Linked DNA regions of Homo sapiens: regions 2 and 3 are each linked to region 1. Evidence: fine-mapped expression QTL. A gene starts in region 1. Each other region holds a variant in brackets. All regions are shown on one strand. Distances are between the middles of the regions.

Region 1 (5,227 bases):
ATAAGCTGACATGTCAGAAATGACCAATTTGGGAAACTAAGTTTACCAACACTGCTAAAGGACTCAAATATTTTAAACAGTGGTTCAGATATTGTGATTATGCAGTATCAGGTTTATTTAATTTTGTATCATTTCATGCTATTTAATGAGACAATATAATGAGTGTTTTTCAAACTGTGGGTCCTAATCCATTTGTAAATTATGAAATCAATGTATTTTCTATGACTGCTATTTTTAAGAAACAAAATACAATACAATGAAAAATATGAGAATGCACTGCAAACATTTCAATGTATGATTTCATAATTTACAAATAGATTAGGACCCACAGTATTATTTTGTGAGACTTTTGTTTCAGTTACATGTGTGTATATACTATAGAACACATTTATTATTGTGGGATGTGATTAAGGAAAAAAATAGTTTGAAGCCATTGGTGTAGTGGAAAGAGTCTGGGCTTTGGAATTAGCCAGAACAAGTTTGAATCTGAGCTCTGCTTGGCTTTTACCCATTATCTAACTAAATGGCTCAATCACCACATTGAAAAAAGAGAGAAATAATATCTCCTTTTTGGTTTGTGTGTGTACATGTTGTGTGCGTGTGTATGAAGATTAGAGATTACTTAAGCAGAATGCCTATAACATAGTCAATGATTAATATATAATTACTTCCAAATCTTTCTCAAAATAATGTTCTCCCTGTAAAAATACTTCACTGAAGAAAGACAATGTGTTTTATTGATGACTACATCTGTTATGCTATCGTGTACTTTTAAAACACCTCTGTCAGTCTTTTTCTCCAATTTGGTTTAGTAAGGAGACTTGTGCACATAGTCTTTCCCCTTCCTGTTCTCACACTTTATTTACCTATATTATGGATCTTGGCACTTTATATCTGTCATAGATGGTCTAATTGTTGCCTAGTTCAATTACTACTAAACACTTTCAAACCTCTTCTAGTTCTCAAAATAGTGGTGGGAGCATTGCAGGGTGCCAGATGAAAATCTGTTGAGTTTGCTCTACAGCACACCTTTTGCAAAGTATCACTTGTGGTGTACGGGGAAGCAGCTGTAATGCTGATTCCGCCGGCATTTCTCACTCAATCTACTCCATGCTAAACAGGCCGGTTAGGAATTAAGTCATACTCTGGGTAGTACAAGTGGAAAGTGTGAACAGAGAAACCACTTTATGCGAGGACAGTGGAAAATGAGATCCTCCTTTCCTCTCCCTACTCCTGCTCCTATCGAGAAGCACTTAAGAGCGCAGACGCCCAGGACCCAGCCGCGCTCGGGCGTCCCGACTCGGAGGCTGGCGGCGGGCAGGCACGCTCTCCCGCGCTGAGAGCCCTTCTGCGGAGATGAACTCTCGAGTGTCGCCGCCGCGCGCGGGCCCGATCGATACCGGCGGGCGGACGTGCTCCCGCCGCCGACAGCAGCCACAGGGCGGTGCAGTCAGCTGTCCGGCCGCTCGGTCGCACTTCTCATCAGCTCAATACCCGCAGAGGACGTGCACCGGTTCCCTCCCGGACACCCACCCCGTGGTCTCCGCCGCACCTTCTGCCCACCGCCCCTTCCGCTCGGCCGTCCGGCGCAGAGCGGGAGCTTTTCAGCCAGACGCCCTCGCGTTGGGGGCAGCCGGGTCCCGGCCCGAGCGGAGGGCGTCGTGAGGTGGCCTTTTCGCCCGGCTCCCCAGTGGGACGCTCCGCGGAGGCAGCCAAGGCGGGGAGTGTCGAGCTCCCTCACACTCTGGACCTTACCTTCTGGCGTCTTCGCCCGGGAGGCTGCAGGGGGAGGCGGACCCAGCCGGCCACAGGGGCAGGTTCGCGGCGCTGTGAGGCGGGGCTGGGCGTGCGCCGCCGCCGCCGCCAGATTCGTCTACTCCAGTGAATCGGCACGGGAGAAAGCCCCGCCCCCGGCGCCCGCTCCCACTCCTGATTGGCCGGGCCAGCCCGGGGAGGCCCGGCGGGACCCCGGCCCGCGTCTCAGCTATAAAGATAGCCCCGGCATGACAGCCGCGGCGAAGCTCTTCTAGTTCATCTGCTGGCCGGCTCTCAGTCCCCGTGGCGCCCCCTTTCCTCTTGTCCCAGAGCGCTCTCGACTCCACCATGCCAAGGGGATTCCTGGTGAAGCGAACTAAACGGACAGGCGGCTTGTACCGAGTTCGCCTTGCGGAGCGTGTCTTCCCTCTGCTGGGGCCCCAGGGGGCGCCGCCCTTCTTGGAGGAGGCTCCCAGCGCCTCCTTGCCCGGCGCGGAGCGGGCGACACCCCCCACCCGAGAGGAACCAGGAAAGGGGTTGACGGCGGAGGCGGCCCGGGAACAGTCGGGGTCGCCATGTCGGGCGGCTGGGGTGAGCCCGGGGACGGGCGGGCGGGAAGGCGCGGAGTGGCGGGCGGGTGGCAGGGAAGGTCCCGGGCCCAGCCCCAGCCCCAGCCCCAGTCCAGCGAAGCCGGCAGGCGCAGAGCTGCGTCGGGCGTTCCTGGAGCGCTGCCTCAGCTCGCCCGTCTCCGCCGAGTCTTTCCCCGGGGGCGCCGCCGCCGTGGCCGCTTTCTCCTGCTCCGTGGCGCCAGCAGCCGCACCGACCCCGGGGGAGCAGTTTCTGCTGCCGCTTCGGGCGCCGTTCCCAGAGCCCGCGCTTCAGCCGGACCCTGCGCCCCTCTCGGCCGCCCTTCAGAGTCTGAAGCGGGCGGCCGGCGGCGAGCGCCGCGGCAAGGCACCCACGGACTGCGCGTCTGGACCCGCGGCCGCGGGAATCAAGAAGCCAAAGGCCATGAGGAAGTTGAGCTTTGCCGATGAGGTGACCACATCCCCTGTCCTGGGCCTGAAGATCAAGGAGGAGGAGCCCGGAGCGCCGTCCCGGGGCTTGGGGGGCAGCCGCACGCCACTGGGGGAGTTCATCTGCCAGCTGTGCAAGGAGCAGTACGCAGACCCCTTCGCGCTGGCCCAGCACCGCTGCTCCCGCATCGTGCGCGTAGAGTACCGCTGCCCTGAGTGCGACAAGGTGTTCAGCTGTCCTGCGAACCTGGCCTCCCATCGCCGCTGGCATAAGCCGCGTCCTGCGGCTGCAAACGCCGCCACAGTCTCCTCCGCCGACGGGAAGCCGCCTTCTTCGTCGTCTTCGTCCTCCCGGGACTCCGGGGCCATTGCATCTTTTCTGGCGGAGGGAAAGGAGAACAGCCGAATAGAGCGGACTGCGGATCAGCACCCGCAGGCCAGGGACAGCTCCGGGGCGGATCAGCACCCGGACAGCGCCCCGAGGCAGGGCCTCCAGGTGCTGACGCATCCAGAGCCACCGCTGCCTCAGGGCCCCTACACGGAGGGGGTGTTGGGGCGCCGGGTACCTGTGCCGGGCAGTACCAGTGGTGGCAGGGGATCCGAGATTTTCGTGTGCCCATATTGCCACAAAAAGTTTCGTCGCCAAGCCTATCTGCGCAAGCACCTGAGCACTCACGAGGCGGGCTCGGCCCGTGCGCTAGCGCCGGGCTTTGGCTCCGAACGCGGTGCCCCACTTGCCTTCGCTTGCCCATTGTGCGGAGCGCACTTCCCTACAGCAGATATCAGGGAGAAGCACCGGCTGTGGCATGCTGTCCGCGAGGAGCTGCTCCTGCCCGCTCTGGCGGGGGCTCCTCCCGAAACGTCGGGCCCTAGCGGGCCATCTGACGGGAGTGCCCAGCAAATTTTCTCGTGCAAGCACTGCCCGTCCACTTTTTTTAGCTCTCCAGGGCTGACCCGGCACATCAATAAGTGCCACCCCTCAGAAAGCCGGCAAGTGCTGCTGCTGCAGATGCCACTGCGGCCTGGCTGCTGAGGGACGAGAGACCAGGATGATTTCGAGGTTGGCCTTAGAGGAAACAGATCATGGGAATTTCTGTGGGGCTTTCTTCAACTTGCAAGTTTACTTTCATTCCTTCCTATGTTTTAATCCCCTAAAATTCTCCCTGTAGTCAATGTTCCACCAGAGGAGCGGACAGTGAAATGTAATATCCCTCTCTAGAGCAGGTATGTATATGGTATAAACCTTGAGATCAAAGACTGTCAGCTTTAAATCCTTCTCACTTTCCCCACTAAAATAGGATTTTTCCCCTTAAAACTCTGGAGACCCTAACGAATCCTATATGATTTGTAATTCCTATGGAAAGTCGCGGTGAATGCGTGCATGTCTCAATGTCCACAAAGGATTCTGGCTACCCTTTGGTAGCCAATGTTTTTTTTGTCTTGTCATCACAGGCGCCTATACAGCTTCTGTCTCAATAGGGTCAGATATTTTGCACTGTATATTCTGTGAATTAAAAGTTATGTGATTGGTGTCAAACTTAAGGAGATTCAAGACCTGGCAGAAAATGTAAGAGGATTTTTGCTGCTTTTGGGGTGCATGGGGATCTCCCCTGTAAACTTTCCTTTGCCCAATTATATGTACATGTCCATTCTTAAGTTGGTGTTTGGAGGTGGGGAGGATGCTACTTTACTGGAGTTGAGACACCCCCTAAAATTCTCACCCTCAGCTATTTTGTGGGCAGTATTCAGGAAGAGCTACTTCAAACCTTTCTTTAAATGGCTTTTTGGAAATACAGAAGTCGTTTCCTCAAGTTTGACTGTTTTAATGGGGTTTCACCCAAATTGTTTAATGCTTCTGCTGTAAATGTCATACTGTGTATTCATTATGAAAATATGTACAGCTTAAGGAAGATGTTAACACCTGTAATCCACTAAGGAACTGAATGGCAATTTGCTCAATATTCAGTATTTTCTTTTCAGCGGCAACTTGTTTTTGATTTTTTTAAAAAACCATTTCAGTGTACATTGTGTACTAATTCCCTACTAGCCAGTTTGGGACATTGGCTGAGCACTGCCTGACAGAAAGCCCGTATTTGTAAGATGCTTACCACCAAATAAATGTACATAGACTGTGCTTTTGTTGTGTTCTGTGTTTGTCTTAAGAATCCTGTTGAACACAGCCTATTTTCAAAGCCACATTTCTTATCTCCCCAATGTCGGTATCCTGTTTTAGAATGTTAGTGACCCATTTGGACAGAATACAAAGACGGAAATATTTTGCAAATGAATGTGATGGTGCAGGAATGCAATGAAAAATTTTCCTTTGAAGTATGGCTGCAAAGACTGAGCTGCAAAAAGCAAGGAATATGCACTAGTCTTTGAATCTAAAAAAGACATCCCCCCCAAGAAATGTCAACCGAAAACATATTTTAAATATATATATATATATATTTCAA
Region 2 (5,227 bases), 61 kb before region 1:
TAAGTATAAAAAACTAAAACATTGGTAAAACCCCAGATTTTAAAAATAAAAGTATTTGATTATATAAAAATAAAACAGTACATTGTAGATGAAGGTTAAGGAAAATAAATATAGTACTTGATGATCCTTACAAAGTGTATATGATATTCTAAGTATTAATCTGAGTTTAGGATGTTTCAAATTGTAAAAGGAATCCCACTTAATTGTGCATTTTAATGTGGTTACAATGGTGAATTTCATATCATATGAATTTTATCTCAATAGAAAAAGGAACTCAAACTCTGACTTTGTCCTAGTTTTGGGTATGAGGATTAATCATAGTTTACAAAGAGAAAAAAAAGCCCCAAGATTTGATAGTTCATTATGAGCAAAAGAAAAAGGAAATAATCAAGAACAGAGGGAAATTAGTTTTTTTTAAAAGCCACTGAACTAAGAAATACAACCGTGGTTCTTTAATTATTAAGGGAAGGGCTCTGAATTTGCTCCATTATCTTAATTATGTTTCTGGAGCAAACATTATTTCAATGTGATAAAAGATGACATGACACTAAAGGTAAAGCCTGAGCAGATGTTACATGAGTAACAAGCCAATAGGCCCACATTCTGGTAATTTCTTCCCCACTAGACATGTTCTCATTAATCTGTGATTAATAGGATTCAAGTATAGTAAATGATGATGATCTATTGTCTGTCTTTGTCGAGCACCATGGACGGAGTAATTTGTCAGCTCAGCTTTTGTGTGACTATTTAATAGCAAAGAGGGAGAGAGAAAAGACGCTAATCTTCTAATTGGCATCTATAGAGAAGGTCTAGGAGAATACTGCCTGTATGGAAATAGCCAGTGTAATTCCTATGCCTAAGGAAAGCAAATGCAGACTCTATGTATCTTTTATATAATTAATTGTGCCTTCTATTGAACAGAAGTTGGGGATGAGGATAAAGAAAAAACGGCAATAGAACAGTCTTAAGAGATCATAAGGTAACATTTATTAACTTATAACATTTATTAACTTAGATATGAGGCTTTTTCAACTATAGTGACTTGCCAAAAAAGTGGGCAAAAGAAAAAAAAATAACTTCTTTTGGTTAAAAAATAGTTGCTCAGATGGACCAAAATAACAATGTATAAAATAAAAAGCCAGCATCATCGTCAGTACCACCACTAGCAACACAGAATGCCCTGATGTTATGATGGTAAAAAATTTAATACATCAATAAATCAATAAATAAATTCAAAACAGATGTTTTCAATGAAAATAATTTGATGATTAGTCCTGTCAAGTCTACCATAAAAACTTCGTCAAATGGCTATACCTTGGTGAGAATGATGTGTGAAATTGCTCTTTCCCTTTTTCTCCCTCTCCCTTTGTATCTTTAAAAATTTTTGGCCGTGCATGGTGGCTCACACCTGCAATCCCAACACTTTGGGAAGCCGAGGCAGGTAGACTGCTTGAGCTCAGGAATTCAAGAGCAGCCTGGGCAACATGGTGAAACCCCTCTCTACAAAAATTTCAAAAAATTAGCCAGGTGTTGTTGTGGTGTGCACCTGTAGTCCCAGCTACCCAAGAGGCTGAGGTGGGAGGATCACTTGAGCCTGGGGGATTGAGGCTGCAGTGAGCTGTGATCATGCCACAGGGCTCCAGTCTGGGCGACAAAAACAAACAAAAAACAAAAAACCCGTCTCAAAAAATTTTTTTCTTCTGCACTCTTTTCTATATTTTAGGTTCTAGGTAGTTTACTGGTTGGTGGAAATGAAAAGGACAAGGTCTCACTGGGAGAAAATATTTGCAATGTATACAACCAACAAATAATTAGTATATGCACAGTATATAGAGAAAGACTACTGATCAACCTTAGAGAGAAATTGGTGAAGAATAAAAACAGGCAGTTGACAGAAGAGGAAATCCAATAGGGTCCATGAACATATGAATAGATGTTCAATATAACTAATAATCAGGACAATTTAAGTCAAAAGAATAAGATGTCATCCTCGCCCATCGGATTAGCCAAAATTTAAAAAATGGACTAGATCACATGGGGACTTAAATATGAGTGGGAGTAAAAATCAGACAACCATTTTAGAATGCAATTTGTCAATATCAAGTAATTCATTTTCAATTTATCAGTATGTATAGCAATTCTACTTCTTCAACAATATCCCAAAGAAACCCTTGCACATGTGCACAGAGATATCTAGAAGAATATTCATTACAGCATTGTTTATAATAGTGAAAAATGAAAACTACCTACATATTCACCAGGGATGTGTTCATACTATAGAATGCTATATAGCAGTTTGAATGAATACATGAATGATTATTACCAACATGGATAAGCCTTAAAGCTCAGAGTAAGTTAAGAAAATTTAGCAAATTTAAGAATATTCAGGGTATGCCACTACTAAAATAGTTTTAAAGCATATGCAAAACAATAAAATGCATATATATTAATATATGGATACATACATATGTGATAAGACTGTAAAAACATGCATGGGAATGACATAACACCAAATCCTGGATAGTAGTGATTATCTCTGAGAAGGGAAGGAAGAAAATGAATTTGGAAGGTTTCAACAGTATTTCTAGTGTTTCATTTTTAAAAAATGCAATAAATGTAACAAAATGTTAAGATTTGGTAATGCTGGATGATAAGTCTTTGTTACATTATTCTCTATGTTTTTATTTTTTATTCTCTATTTTTGAGAATATTTTGAAATAGTTCATAGTTTCAAAAGTGGAAAAATGCACAAGGTAAGGAAAAAACATATGGTTTCTAATTTCCAGGTGCTACTATTGTGTCAGGTGAATAGACAATTCACAAATAGCTGTAATGTAGTTTGATAAGTGTTTCAATGTGGCCACAAAGTGCTATATGTAGATATAGATTCACACACACACACTCTTTAAGATATATATATGTGTGCTGTTAAGACATATGACCAAATTCTTTTGGTATCAAGTAGTTGAACCAAAAAATATAATTGACTTTTAAATGTCTTTTCAAATTCAGACAGAAAAAATGTGGTGGTAGCGGCAGTAGTAGCAGTAGTGTAGTAGTTTCTTCTTCTTCTTCTTCTTCTTCTTTCTTCTTCTTCTTCCTCCTCCTCCT[CCTT/C]CTTCTTTCTTCTTCCTCCTCCTCCTCATTCTTCTTTCTTCTTCTCCTTCTCCTTCTTCCTCTTCCTCCTCTTCTTCTTCTTCCTCCTCTTCCTCCTTTTCCTCTTCTTCCTCTTCCTTCCTCTTCTTCCTCTTACCTCCTCTTCCCTCCTTCTCCTTCCCCCTCCTCCTCCTCCTTCTTCTTTTGGCAAAAGGGCAAAGATTAGGCTGTAGTTTCTAAGAACAGCATTAAAATCTCTAACTTTATGCCTTTCATGAATTTGAGAAGCTAATTTATTTGGCCTCAAATAGTTAAAAAAAAAAGGTAGTTGGTGGGGTGGGGGTGGAATGGGGTTTTGATAGAGAATCTTTTAAGGTCTTTTCCAGTTTGAAAAATTTAAGATTCTATTTTTTTTCCTGAAACATTAACCCCAATTTATATGAACAAGATTTTCCAAGATTTTTCCCCAAGTTAGTAATAAAAATACATTTATTCATGAAATATTATAGTTGTTATCAAAAGGCAAAGAAAAACTTTTATGAAATTAGAAGCAAACCATTCTTTTTTTTTTTTTCTTTTTTTTTTGAGATGCAGTCTTGCTCCATCACCCAGGCTGAAGTGCAGTGGCAAGATCTTGGCTCACTGAAACCGCCATCTCCCAGGTTCAAGCAATTCTTCTGCCTCAGCCTCCCGAGTAGCTGGGATTACAGGTGCGTACCACCATGCCTGGCTAATTTTTGTATTTTTACTAGAGACAGGGTTTCACCATGTTGGCCAGGCTGGTCTCAAACTCCTGATCTCAGGTGACCCGCCCACCTCACCCTCCCAAAGTGCTGGGATTACAGGCGTGAGCCACTGCACCCAGACTCTTTTTTTTTTGAGATGAAGTTTCGCTCTTGTTGCCCAGGCTGGAGTGCAATGGTGCGATCTTGGCTCACTGCAACCTCTCTCTCCTGGGTTCAAGAGATTCTCCTACCTCAGCCTTCCGAGTAGCTGAGATTACAGGTGCCCGCCACCATGCCTGGCTAATTTTTGCATATTTAGTAGAGATGGGGTTTCACCATGTTGACCAGGCTGGTCTTGAACTTCTGACCTCAGGTGATCCACCCGCCTCAGCCTCCCAAAGTGCTTGGATTACAGGCGTGAGCCACCGTGCCCAGCTTTTTTTATTAAAATTTTTTTTTTTTAGAGACAGAGTTTCACCCTGTCACCTGGGCTGGAGTGCAGTGGGGAGATCATAGCTCACTGTAACCTTTAACTCCTAGGCCCAAGTGATCCTCCTGCCTCAGCCTCCCAAGTAGGACCACTACTCCTGGCTAATTTAAAAAAAAAATTTGTAGAGATAGAGTCTTGCTCTGTTGTCCAGGCTGGTCTTGAACTCCTGACCTCAATTGATCCTCCTGTCTCAGCCTCTCAAAGTGCTGGGCTTATGGGCATGAGCCACTGTGCCAAGCCATTCTTGATGGGAAGCTAAAAGAAACAGCTAATTTGTTGTGATTAGATTTTGAGAAGGAGATCTAGAGATTCAGAGAATATATATATTCTTTATTCAAAGTACATGGAGAGAGCTGGAGAGAGATGCATCAGATTTTAGACTATGAGATCTGCAGATATAAATTTGTATAATTGGGACTTCTGAGATAGGTAGAAATATTTTAGCTTATATGTTACATTTCTGAACCTAACAGGATTCTACATCAAGGATGATTATTTTTAGATCAGGCAATGAGCTGAACTTCTTTGGTCCCACATGCTGAGCTGCAAATATACTCCCTAGTGACTTTTTATCACTTAAGGTATTCTGCAAAGTATTCTCTAATCTTCCTAAAAATACTAATCCTGAGTACAACATGAAGGGACCAGAAAGCAAAAATGTATCTGTTTGTCAACAATGTAATAATTATTGTCTCTGCTCCTTGATAATAATCTGGCTGGTAATAAACCTTTGATGGCCTCTGATCCTGGCCCTTCAGGATGTTGATTTCTGGTTGGAAAAGTTAATTCTCCTGGAGGATAACAAGATAGAAAAAGACAGTCTTCTATTTACATTCCTCTGGCAGCCAGGTTTAAACATTAAGGTATAAAACCTCCCAAATCTCCTCAAACTGTGTTTGTTTTTGTTTGCTACAGCCTA
Region 3 (5,227 bases), 110 kb before region 1:
ATTAGCTGGGTGTGGTGGAGGGTGCCTGTATTCCCAGCTACTCAGGAGGCTGAGGCCGGAGAATCGCTTGAAGCTGGGAGGCAGAGGCAGCAGTGAGATGAGATTGTGCCACTGCACTCCAGCCTGGGCAACAGAGTAAGACTCCATCTCAAAAAAAAAAAAGAAAGAAAATGGTGCTAATGTTTGCAATTGAGAATCTCCGCAATGTAAATTTTTTACTTGATAGTTCTAATTAAAAGTGTCAGTTTTCACATTCTATATATAATTCCTATAATTATACATCATTTAAATTTTTTATTTTAAAAAAATTTATGTTCATAAGAAGTTGCAAAATAGTATAGAGAGTTCCCCTATGTCCTTCACTCATCTTTCTTCAGTGCTAATATTATCAAAACCAGCAAACTGATGCTGGTACAATGTTAACCATAACTACAGATCTTATTCAGATTTCACAGTTCTTACACATACTTTTTTTTTCAGTATACAAGTTCTATGAAATTTTTTCATATGTATAGGGTTGTGTAACCATTACCATGATCAGGATACAGAATTGTGCTGTCACCACAAAGAAACTCCTTGTATTACCCCTCACAGTCACACTGTCCCCTGTCCCTAAGCCCTGGCACTGACTGATCTGCTCGCCATCATTATAATTTTGTCATTTTGAGAATGTTACATAAATGGATTTATATTTCAACTTTTGAGATTGCCTTTTTTTCAAGCCAATTCACTCAGTGTAATGCCTTTGAAATCTATCCACGTTGCTATATGTGTTAATAGTTTGTTCCTTCTTATTAATGAGTAGTGCACCATTATATGGGGGTACCAGTTTATCCATTCACCTGTTGAAGAATATTTGTTTACAGTTTTGGGCTCTTACAAATGAAACTGCTATAAACATTCATGTACAGGTTTTTGTGTGAATATAAGCTTCATTTCATTTCATTTCTTTCTTTTTTTTTTTTTTTTTTGAGACTGAGTTTTGCTCTGTCACCCAGGCTGGAGTGTAGTGGTGCCATCTCAGCTCACTGCAACCTCCCCCTCCCAGGTTCAAGCAATTCTCTGCCTCAGCCTGCTGAGTAGCTGGGATTACAGGTGCCCACCACCACGCCCAGCTAATTTTTTTGTATTTTTAGTAGAGATGGGGTTTCACCATTTTGGTCAGGCTGATCTTGAACTCCTGACCTTGTGATCCACCCACCTCAGCCTCCCAAAGTGCTGAGATTACAGGCGTGAGCCACTGTGCCCAGCCCATAAGCTTCATTTCTTTAGATAAATACCCAGTTTTGTAAGGTTTTAGGAGTTAAGATCATTGGTGGTAAAATACTTTGTAAATGGCAATGCTCACTTCAAACTTAAGGTGGGTTATTCTGAGTTATATTAAGAATGATAAACAGTGACAAAAGGCTGAAAAATTTGGGGAGAATATGTGGTAAGAGTTGGCAGCAAAGGGAACCAAATTTTGAGTTTTTTACTTTGTAGAAAATAAAATGCTGTTAACGGAAAGTGTGAGACATAGGGGCAGCCTTTTATACAGTGGAAATGTGGGATTGAACTAAAAACAAAAGACTGAAATATCTTGGTACATTGGCAGTGCACCAGCCACTGAAGGATGTACACGATTAGTGGAGAGAATATTAATAGGAAGAAAGAAGAACAGAGACAGAAAGGCAGATTCATTCATTCATCTAGCAAATATTTATTGGGCTCCTACTATTGGCCATGCATTGTTGTTGACCCTAGACCCACCCAGGAACAAGTCTCTGTGTTATGAAGCTTATATTCTAGATAGAGTGAAAGACAATAAACAAGGTAATATGTAAGGGAACGTCAGAGAGTGATAAATACTATATACAAGTGTAAAACAGGGAAAGGAACTGGAGAGAGACTGGAGATGCTATTTTGGAACATATAGTCAGGAAGGCCTCTGTGTGGAGGTGATAGTTTTAGAAGTTTCTGGGGAGCTGAGATCATAGGAAGGAAAGAATTGAGCCAAGACTTGGTTCAGAGGAAGTTGTTGGAAGACAACATAGGAAATTATGACATCTGAACATAAACAAGACCAAATGCACAAAATGTAAGGACAAATATTAAAGTACATTAAGATGCAAAGCATCTCTATGACAAGTTACCTAAAAAAAGAGTTAAGCTGTAGACTTTGGTGCTTTTTTT[T/A]TTTTTGAGATGGAGTTTTGCTCTTATTGCCCAGGCTGGAGCATAATGGCGCAGTCACTGCAACCTCCGCCTCCCGGGTTCAAGCGATTCTCCTGCCTCAGCCTCCTGAGTGAGTAGGTGGGATTATAGGCATGTGCCACCATGCCCAGCTAATTTTGTATTTTTAGTAGAGACGGGGTTTCATTGTGTTGGCCAAGCTGGTCTCAAACTCCTGACCTCAGGTGATCTGCCTGGCTTGGCCTCCTAAAGTGTGGGGATTACAGGCTTGAGCCAATGTGCCCGGCCAAGACTTTGAAATGATATTTAGGAGTGTAAATTAGCACAGTCAATTTCAAGATAATTTGTTATATACATTCATAGGAAGAAGGAAATTTTTGGTTTTGGGGGTCAGGGACCAAGTCATTATCAGGGTATGCTGCATTTCTTTTACTTTATATAACTGTGTCTTTCTGTGTTCTACAGAGAAACAGCTTGAAAATGGGGTACTATCCAAATGTCAGTTAGTGTTATTATTGATGATTTTGTGACTCCTACTGTGCCTCTCATGCACTATGATGGTAAAATGTATCCGTTCTCTAAAGAAAGGCACTATGGCTGCAGTGAGCCATGGTCATGCCACTTCACTCCAGCCTGGGCAACAGAGCAAGACCCTGTCCCAAACAAAGCAAAACAAAACAAAAGCAAAACACTATCCTTATCCTTTTTCTTTTCTTTTGACAATATAGGCAGATAATAATGTTCAAGTTTTCTTGGAAGATCAGGAAAAAAAATAGTGAAATAGATCATCTTTATTCCTGCATTATTTTTGTGCAGAGAGGGATGTTCCCATTCTACCATCCTCTGCAGCTTTTCTCTAGACAGGATGTCTACTTTTCTACTGACTACCTTTTCCAGGGTAGGAGGGTAGGGCAGGGCATTGGAAAGAGGTGAGCTTTAGGTCAGTTTTAACAAAACACAATGTTATAGATACAATTGAAGCCCCTTTTGAAGCTCTTTGCAATCTCAATTCCCTGACTCCTTTGCCAATATGTATTCTTCCTATATTTTCATACTTTTGGTACATATGAATGTATCTGTAAATAATGGATATTAATACTATTAAGTCTTACATAAATGGTATCTTAAATGTATCCTTTTGCAAATTACTTTTCCATTCACCATTATGATTTGAGATTTACTCATATGGATTCATGTTGTTCCTTCACGTAACTTCATTGCTATATTCTACATTTATTCATCCATTTCCTTACTTGTGATAGACAATACTATGGTGAATATTTTCTGTATGTGTCCCCTTAGGCACATCCATGATGGTTTCTTCAGGGCAGTGATACTCAAAGTGTGATGCATGAACCAGCAGCATCAGTATGACCTGGGATTTGTTAGAAATGTAAATTTTTGGGCTTTAACCCATGCTTACTGAATCAGAAACGGGGGTGGGGTGGGGTGGGGCCTACCAAACTACTTTAATAAGTTCTCCAGTGATTCTGACGCACACTAAAGTTTGAGAATTACTGTTCTAGCTATAATTTTATAGAATTGCTGGGTTATAGGATATGTGTATTTACAAATTTATGAGATTTAGACAAATTGTCTTTAAAGTGATTGTGCTAATTTACACTCTATTTTTAAAAAAGCTTAAGTAATGTTTTTGTTACTTTAATACATTGAATATTAATTTATTAAGCTGAAGTAACATCTCATCTGTCCATACAGGCAGCCCTTGAAGACATTTTGTTTTACTTTATTTTATTTTTTTTGAGATGAAGTCTCACTCTGTTGCCCAAGCTGGGGTGCCGTGGTACAATCTCAGCTCAGTGCAGCCTCCGCCTCCCGGGTTCACGCCATTCTCCTGCCTCAGCCTTCCAAGTAGCTGGGACTACAGGCGCCCGCCACTACGCCCGGCTAATTTTTTTGTATTTTAGTAGAGACGGGATTTCACTGTGTTAGCCAGGTTGGTCTCGATCTCCTGACCTTGTGATCCGCCCGCCTCGGCCTCCCAAAGTGCTGGGATTACAGGCGTGAGCCACTGCGCCCGGCCAATTTACACTCTTAAATATAGTTTCTGCCCATAGATTTTAACTTTTTAAAAAAGTTGTGGGGAAATGGCGGCTTCAGGAGAGAGCGGGACTTTGGGCGGCGGAGGCGGCACAGAGGAAGCATTTATGACCTCCTACAGTGAGGAATAAAGATGGCATACAGCATACCTCATATTCATTCCAACCCTGACAGTGACACCAAGAATGTTTTCCTGGGACTGCCTGGTGCTTGTTCTCCCGGGCCTTGTCTTCAGGGGAAACAAATAGAGAAGGGAGACTTGGTTCTAACATCCAAAAACCACATTGAAAGACTGACCCGTCCTGGTTCCTCTTACTTCAATTTGAACCCATTTGAGTTTCTTCAGATAGATCCTGAAGTTACAGATGAAGAAATAAAAAAGAGGTTTCGGCAGTTATCCATCTTGGTGCATCCTGACAAAAATGAAGATGATGCTGACAGAGCACAAAAGGCTTTTGAAACTGTGGACAAAGCTTACAAGTTGCTACTGATCAGGAGCAAAAGAAGAGGGTCCTGGATGTAATTTAGGCAGGAAAAGAATACGTGGAACACACTGTGAAAGAGAGAAAAAAAAAAAACAATCAAAGAAGGAAGGAAAACCTACGATTGTAGAGGAGGATGATCCTGAGCTGTTCAAACAAGCTGTATATAAACAGAAAATGAAACTCTTTGCTCAGCTGGAAATTAAAAGGAAAGAGAGAGAAGCCAAAGAGATGCATGAAAGGAAACGGCAAAGGGAAGAAGAGATTGAAGCTCAAGAAAAAGCCAAACGAGAAAGAGAGTGGCAGAAAAACTTTGAGGAAGGTCGAGATGGTCGTGTGGACAGCTGGCGAAACTTCCAAGTCAATACAAAGGGGAAGAAAGAGAAGAAAAATCGGACCTTCCTGAGACCACCGAAAGTAAAAATGGAGCAGCATGAGTGACCACCCGGGGTCACAGGCACAGAACCTTCCCCCTGCTATCTCCCTTCCTGCTTCGAAGGACTCATTCTTTCCTC

Direction of the effects. Alleles are on the strand shown, and positions count from the first base shown. SD is a standard deviation of normalised expression in the study named. Not every link is listed here.
For the expression in prefrontal cortex of the gene that starts at base 2,015 in region 1, CCTT is the low allele of the variant in region 2 and C is the other (small effect, 0.32 SD a copy in CommonMind).

Evidence for each region. PIP is the estimated chance that this variant, and not a neighbour inherited with it, causes the effect.
Region 2: its variant is the best candidate, but not a certain one, in a credible set for the expression of INSM2 in prefrontal cortex (CommonMind, PIP 0.75).
Region 3: its variant is the best candidate, but not a certain one, in a credible set for the expression of INSM2 in lung (TOPMed, PIP 0.72).

The regions. Positions count from the first base shown.
Region 1 is chr14:35,532,150-35,537,376 of GRCh38, forward strand. It overlaps INSM2 (INSM transcriptional repressor 2), which reads left to right and starts at 2,015. Exons shown (of 1, transcript NM_032594.4): 1 at 2,015-4,905. The coding sequence starts at 2,104. The coding sequence ends at 3,804. RefSeq lists enhancers at 809-1,633, 1,634-2,457, 2,458-3,281, 2,962-3,111, 3,282-4,104 and silencers at 1,452-1,531, 1,632-2,001.
Region 2 is chr14:35,471,327-35,476,553 of GRCh38, forward strand. LOC107984681 (a long non-coding RNA gene) reads left to right here and starts at 3,682. Exons shown (of 2, transcript XR_001750713.2): 1 at 3,682-3,803. LOC105370450 (a long non-coding RNA gene) reads right to left here. Exons shown (of 3, transcript XR_943749.3): 3 at 4,596-5,099. The variant CCTT/C (reference allele first, on the strand shown) is at 3,112.
Region 3 is chr14:35,425,479-35,430,705 of GRCh38, forward strand. It overlaps the pseudogene DNAJC8P1. Among named protein-coding and RNA genes, the nearest start is that of NFKBIA, 23 kb to the left of the region's middle. The variant T/A (reference allele first, on the strand shown) is at 2,173.